Linked DNA regions of Homo sapiens: region 1 is linked to region 2. The links come from fine-mapping of genetic effects on gene expression. A gene starts in region 2. The other region holds a variant in brackets. All regions are shown on one strand. Distances are between the middles of the regions.

Region 1 (2,794 bases), 20 kb before region 2:
CATCTTTTCACCCTCTTAACAGGGTTTTATACAGAGCAAAAGTTTTCAGTTTTGATAAAGTCCACTTTACTGATATTTCCTTTATGGACTGTTGCTTTTAGTGTTGCATTTAAGAACAACTCTACCTAGTCTTAGATCCCAAAGGTTATCTGTTTTTTCCTAAAAGAAGTTTTATAGTTTTAAATTTAAGTATGCATGTGAGCCATGTTAATTTTTGTATAATGTGTAAGACTTAGGCTAAAGTTCTTTTTTTTTAATCCTATAGCTGGTCCAGCTGCTCCAGCACCGTTTGTTGAAAGGCTGTCCTTCCTCCATTGAATTACTTTTGCACCTTAAAGTCAGCTGGGCATATTTGTGTGGTCCTGTTCCCGTGATGATCTCGGCTCTGTCGATCTGTGTGTCTGTGCCTCTGCCAGCATTGCACTCTTGGTTCACATAGCTATATAGTAGATCTTGAAATCAGCTGGACTGATTCCTCCTCTCACTCTATTCTTTTTCAAAATATTTTTGCTATAAATTTGTATATGAATTTTAGAATAACCTTGTCTACATCTACAAAACATCTTCTAGGATTTTGATAGGAACTGCATTTAACCTGTATGTTAATTTGAGGAGAATTGATATCTTTACTGTATTCTGTCTAGCAATCCATGAACATGGCATGTCTATTTAAATCTTTGATTTCATCACGTTTTATAATTTTCAGCATACAAGTCCTTGCATATTTTGTTAGATTTAAACCGAAGTATTTCCCTTTTTCAGCAATTGTAAACAGTACATATTTTTAACTTTTGTGTCTACATGTTCATTTCTAGGAGGTAGAAACAGGTTTTTGTGTGTTTATCTTGCACCCGAGATTTTGCTGGACTCCCTAGTTGTCTGCTTTCTGTAGATTCCTAGGATTTCCCACATAGACAAGCATGGCCTCTGCATGAGAATACCTGGATCCTCCCCTCAGGGCTTCTGACTTAGGGTCTGGACATCAGGACTTTTTAAACCTTCCTGGTGATTCTGATAAGCAGCTGAGGTGGAGAACCACTGCTCTTTGACCTTGTCGTCAGTGAGCAGAGGTGCCTTAAGCACAAAAGCCTAGTGCCAGGACCCCGCATCCCGCCCACTCTGCACTCGGCCTATCTTGCTGTCGGCCGGCATGGCTAACAGGCGTGGGCCCTATCAGACAGTCCCTGGTGACTGAAGCATGGGCTCCTCTCGGCCCAGGAAAGACGGCTAGGCTGTAATGGATAGCCAGTTTTAATGAACAGAGGATACTGATTGGTATAAAAAGGTGTGTTTGTCACTGAGGTGTCCTCATTTTCTAGATGAGGAGTTGT[C/T]TTCTCCATGGTCTTGAACGCCTGCTTCGCCATGGCACCAGCGTCTGGGTGCACGCTGGCTGTCGCCACAGGGCAGGAGCTGCTCATGGAAAGGTGTGTGCCCCTAGTGTGCAGCACTGGTCAGCTTTTCCACATAGTAACAACAGCCTTGTTCTGGGCCTGAGAAGGCCCCCAAAGGTAGACGAAAAGGAACCATGGCCAAATGCCTATCAATCAGCCCGGTACCTAATGTAACCCAGGACCCATGTGAGGGAGGCTGAGCCTTCACCTTTCAGCCCTTCCCTCAGCATGTGGTTCTCAGTTTAGGGCAGAGCTTCTTAAGATTCACTTTCTGGCGTTTAGGGGCCCAGCCCCACCAGCAGTACAGGCCTACACCAGTGTAATTTGAAACGTACAGACGGTGGAAGAGGAAGTCTAGGGAGCTTGGGTCCTTAGACCACCAGGGAGCAGGGAAGGGATGGGAAGGGCTGGGGGGCGGCGGGGGCTCACCTTCCTCTGCTTCCCTGTGGGCTGGGTTCAGAGCTCCTCAGTGTCCTGGCCTCCCAGGTGGGATCAAGCAGGGTGGGTGCAGCTGCAGCGTTCCAGGCAAGAGCTCAAGCTCCAGTACCAGGAACATAAGGGGACATAAGGGCCTCAGGCAAACTAGGGTTACGGGCCACTGCCCCAAGAGTTGAGTGGGCCACAAGCAATCCCCAGTGCCCAGGCGCTTCCCCATGAGAGCCGCCAGCAGGCAACGGTGTGCCAGGCCGGCCTGAGCGGGGCCAGTACACAGTGGGTGCGAGGCTTCTCTCAAATGCGCGCTCCAGCTCATCAGTCTTAGGGCTTCTGAGGCAACCTAGTGGGTCCTGGACTTCTGTTGCTGTGGGGCCTCAAACCTGTTGAGTAGCCACCTCAGATGACCAGAACCCACCTCCAGAGTTCCTATGACCAAAGTTGTCTAGAGCCGCTCCGGACACTGCCAGGGTTGCTACTGACAGGAATGGGGTCCCCAGAGAAAGCCATGCCCACAGGCATCCACCAGCTGCAGACAGGCCCGGCCCCTGCATGGCCTGCCTTGGCTGCACCTTGTACATCCTGGATGGCATCTGCCGGCCACGGGCTGAGTCCCCACACACACAGACTGGCCCTGGAGAGAGCAAGGCAAGCCCCCTAACCTGGGACAAGTGGACACTGAGGACTCCCAGACCCAGCCCTGGGTGGCTCCAGCTTGGGACTGCTCCCTTAAGGCTCGTTCTTGGCCCTCACTCTCCTCCCCTTCCTGGCCCTCATCTGGACCCGCGCTTTCTGCTGCCTTGTGGTCCTCTGCTCCAGCCCTGGGAGGGAACGCGGCTCCCCTGACACTCGAAGCCAGGGAGGCCTCTCTCTTTGCCTGCTGGGCCCGGTGCCGCTCTTCAGTTCTGCCAGGGCTGCTGAGGCGGCACAGGCCAGAGAGGGAGGAACCAGGGCTGAGGGCAGGAACCACA
Region 2 (2,794 bases):
GGGGAAGAAAAGCATGAGAAATAAAATGAGGAGGAGAAGTAGAACCGGCAGGGGTGGGTCTACAGAGCTTTGTAGGCCATAACAGGGAATGATGTGATTTCTAATTTTCAAAAAGCCGCTCTGGCTGCTATGTGAGAGTAGAAAACCCTGTAGGAAGGCAAGCGTGGAAGCAGAAAGACCCTCTGAGGCAACCACTTCAGCAGTGCAGAGGACAGCGGTAGGAGGGGCGGAGGGAAGTAGGCAGGTGCCAGAACCACGGTAAAGGAAGAGTTCCATGAGAATGCTTACACAGCAGTGGCAATCGAGGGCTGCATCCGCAAGGGCAGATGACACAGCACAGTGGTTCCCAACGCTCACAAGAAGCACCCTGGTTTCCCGCCTTCCTCTGTTCCTATTGGCACCATAATCTCTGTATAATCTGGGCCAAACGTGTTACCTCTCTGGGTCCCACAGATGAGATACTGTGCCCTGCCTCGAAGGCTGCCCGTGCGAAGCTCTTGCCATCTTTAAAGCATGCAGGCTGCCTGGCACCCGGGGCTAAACAAAGGCCACTGCTCTCCTTCACCGCGCAGCCCCCAGGCCTGCAGCTCCATGCCCCTCAGGTTGGGTGCAATGCCCCTGGTGCAGATTCTGCTCCCCGGGCCCTCTCTCAAACACCTGAGCAGGCTTGTGTCTCCCAGGGGAGGTCGTCCCCCGCTACTCGGGAGGGTTACGGAAACCAGTGCTTCCGCTTCCCCGCCGCCCGCGGGACAGGTGTCTCCTGGCCGAGCTCGTGCGGGGCCCTGGGAGGCTCTCAGTACACGGGAACCGTGGGTCCCGCCCGCCTTCCCGCACCAGGCCCCAAGCCCCAAGCCCCAAGCTCTCGGGGCCCCGTTCATCCGCCTCTCCTTGGCCCCACGCCTCCTCCTTGGGCCGGGGCCTGGTGAGAACCACGAGGGCCGCGCGGCAGCCTCACCCCTCTCGAAGTCCATCTCCTCCAGCGTCTGCTGTACGCCGAGCACCGCGCTGGGATGCGAGCAGCAGGGCCCGTCCGCGCAGGGCCGAGGCGTCGCCATCCCGGCCCCGGCGTCAGTCGATCCGCCCCGGGTCTCAGGCTCAGCCTCGGCGGGAGGGGCGGACGCAGGGCCCGCCCCGCGTCCCTGATCTGGCCGCTCGGCGTCCGCGGCTGTCGCCCTAGTCCCGCCTTCTCGCCAAAGCTGACCAATCAAACGCCTAGGCCTTAGCTCGAGAACCAATTGCAACGGTAGGGCGGGGCTTGTTGCGCCCGGCCGTGCCCCGAGGCCTCCGCGCGAGGGCGTCCAAGGCCAAGCGAGGACTGAGGCGCTGGGTTCCGGGAGCCGCGCGCCGCTGGAGGGCCGCCGGGCCGCCTGGCCTTGCAGGGTGTGGGGATGAGGCAGCTGGGTCCGGTCGGGAGCTTTCCCGTTACCTTCGCCATGACCCAGCCGTCCAGCGACCTCGCAGCCTCCTCTCTTTACCGCCCCTAGTCCCTAGGGCAGGGAGGCGCCACGCGCTCCGCGGTCTTTTTTTTTTTTTTTTTTTTTTTTGAGACGGAGTCTCGCTGTCACCCAGACTTGTGTGCAGTGGCGCGATCTCGGCTCACTGCAACCTCCGCCTCCCGGGTTCAAGCGATTCTCCTGCGTCAGACTCCTGAGTAGCTGGGACTACAGGCGCCCGCCACCACGCCCGGCTAATTTTTTGTATTTTTTAGTAGAGACGGGGTTTCGCCAGGATGGTCTCGATCTCTTGACCTCGTGATCCGCTCACCTTGGCCTCCCAAAGTGCTGGGATTACAGGCGTGAGCCATCGGGCCGGGGCGCGCTCCACGGTTTTTAGCCCCTCTTCCTGGCACCACCCCGGACCAAGGCCGACCGCCCCCGGGGCAGCGGCAAAGTGACGGCTGGAAAGGCCTCGAGACGCCCCTCCCCGTACCCTGCTCTTCCTTACAAGTCCAGCAAGGGGCAGGTGGCCACAACTTGTCCTGCCTGTAGCTCCACCTCAGGGCAGGGGCAGGGCCTTGGTTTGTGCAGAACCCCCTGGCCCCACAGTGGGCGCTGAGTTTACGGAATCGGTCTTCATGATCAAAACCCACCGGGAGGCCGTCTGCGGACCGCGCACCTTCGCAGCGTGCTCCTCAGCGGACCCCAGCCTTCTCAATTCCCAGTTAAAACCCAGGCAGCTGCCTGCTCAAGCCACGATCAAGTGTACAGGGGAGACCGCCTGATCGGCTTAGAAAGAGTGCATGAACGACAGAATGCAGGTTGGGTTCTGTGCCAGTCCCTCTCCAGGACAGTGGTCTGGTGCACACTGGATGTAAGTTCCTTCCCCCGCTAGTTGGGGCACGGAAGACCCTAGCATTCCTGGTGGGTAGAAGGCTGGAAGTCGTTTCTCCTCCCCTAAGCAGGTTGAGAACCCCATCCTCACACAAGCAATGATCTCATCTCCACAACCTTCCACTCCTTTGGCCCCTCATTCCCACTACCCGTCTTGAGTTCTGGGAAGGCACCCCCCCCACCACTCCGCTTCTCCCCTGGACTCCCAGTGCCCTGACTTCTCCTTCTGGCCAGAAGCCAAGGCTGGCTCCCAAGGGGCTATGGCCATGGTCTCGTTCCCAGCCCCGCAGCCACCACTGTGGGAAAACACTAGAGCTGGGCTGTCCCCTCCCACAGGCAGGCAGGGACCACAAAAGTGGTGGCTGCCCTGGGATTGTGGGGGAGGCCCAGTCCAGCCTCCCTCCACCCAGAGAGCCTTCCCTCTTGGTACCCAGAAAGGCTTTAGCCCAAACATCTTAGCCCCA

Direction of the effects. Positions count from the first base shown, and alleles are read on the strand shown. Sizes are in standard deviations (SD) of each study's normalised expression.
For the expression in skeletal muscle of the gene that starts at base 1,084 in region 2, C is the low allele of the variant in region 1 and T is the other (moderate effect, 0.69 SD a copy in GTEx).

What was found. PIP is the estimated chance that this variant, and not a neighbour inherited with it, causes the effect.
Region 1: its variant is fine-mapped to the expression of ANKRD39 in skeletal muscle (GTEx, PIP 0.94).

The regions. Positions count from the first base shown.
Region 1 is chr2:96,836,679-96,839,472 of GRCh38, forward strand. It overlaps ANKRD23 (ankyrin repeat domain 23), which reads right to left. Exons shown (of 9, transcript NM_144994.8): 9 at 1,234-2,794. It also overlaps a transcript of CNNM3 not described here. Among named protein-coding and RNA genes, the nearest start is that of ANKRD23, 5.9 kb to the right of the region's middle. RefSeq lists enhancers at 647-1,203, 1,204-1,758. The variant C/T (reference allele first, on the strand shown) is at 1,332.
Region 2 is chr2:96,856,933-96,859,726 of GRCh38, forward strand. ANKRD39 (ankyrin repeat domain 39) reads right to left here and starts at 1,084. Exons shown (of 4, transcript NM_016466.6): 1 at 956-1,084. The coding sequence starts at 1,055. It overlaps SEMA4C (semaphorin 4C), which reads right to left. Exons shown (of 15, transcript NM_017789.5): 15 at 2,786-2,794. RefSeq lists silencers at 745-914, 945-1,614.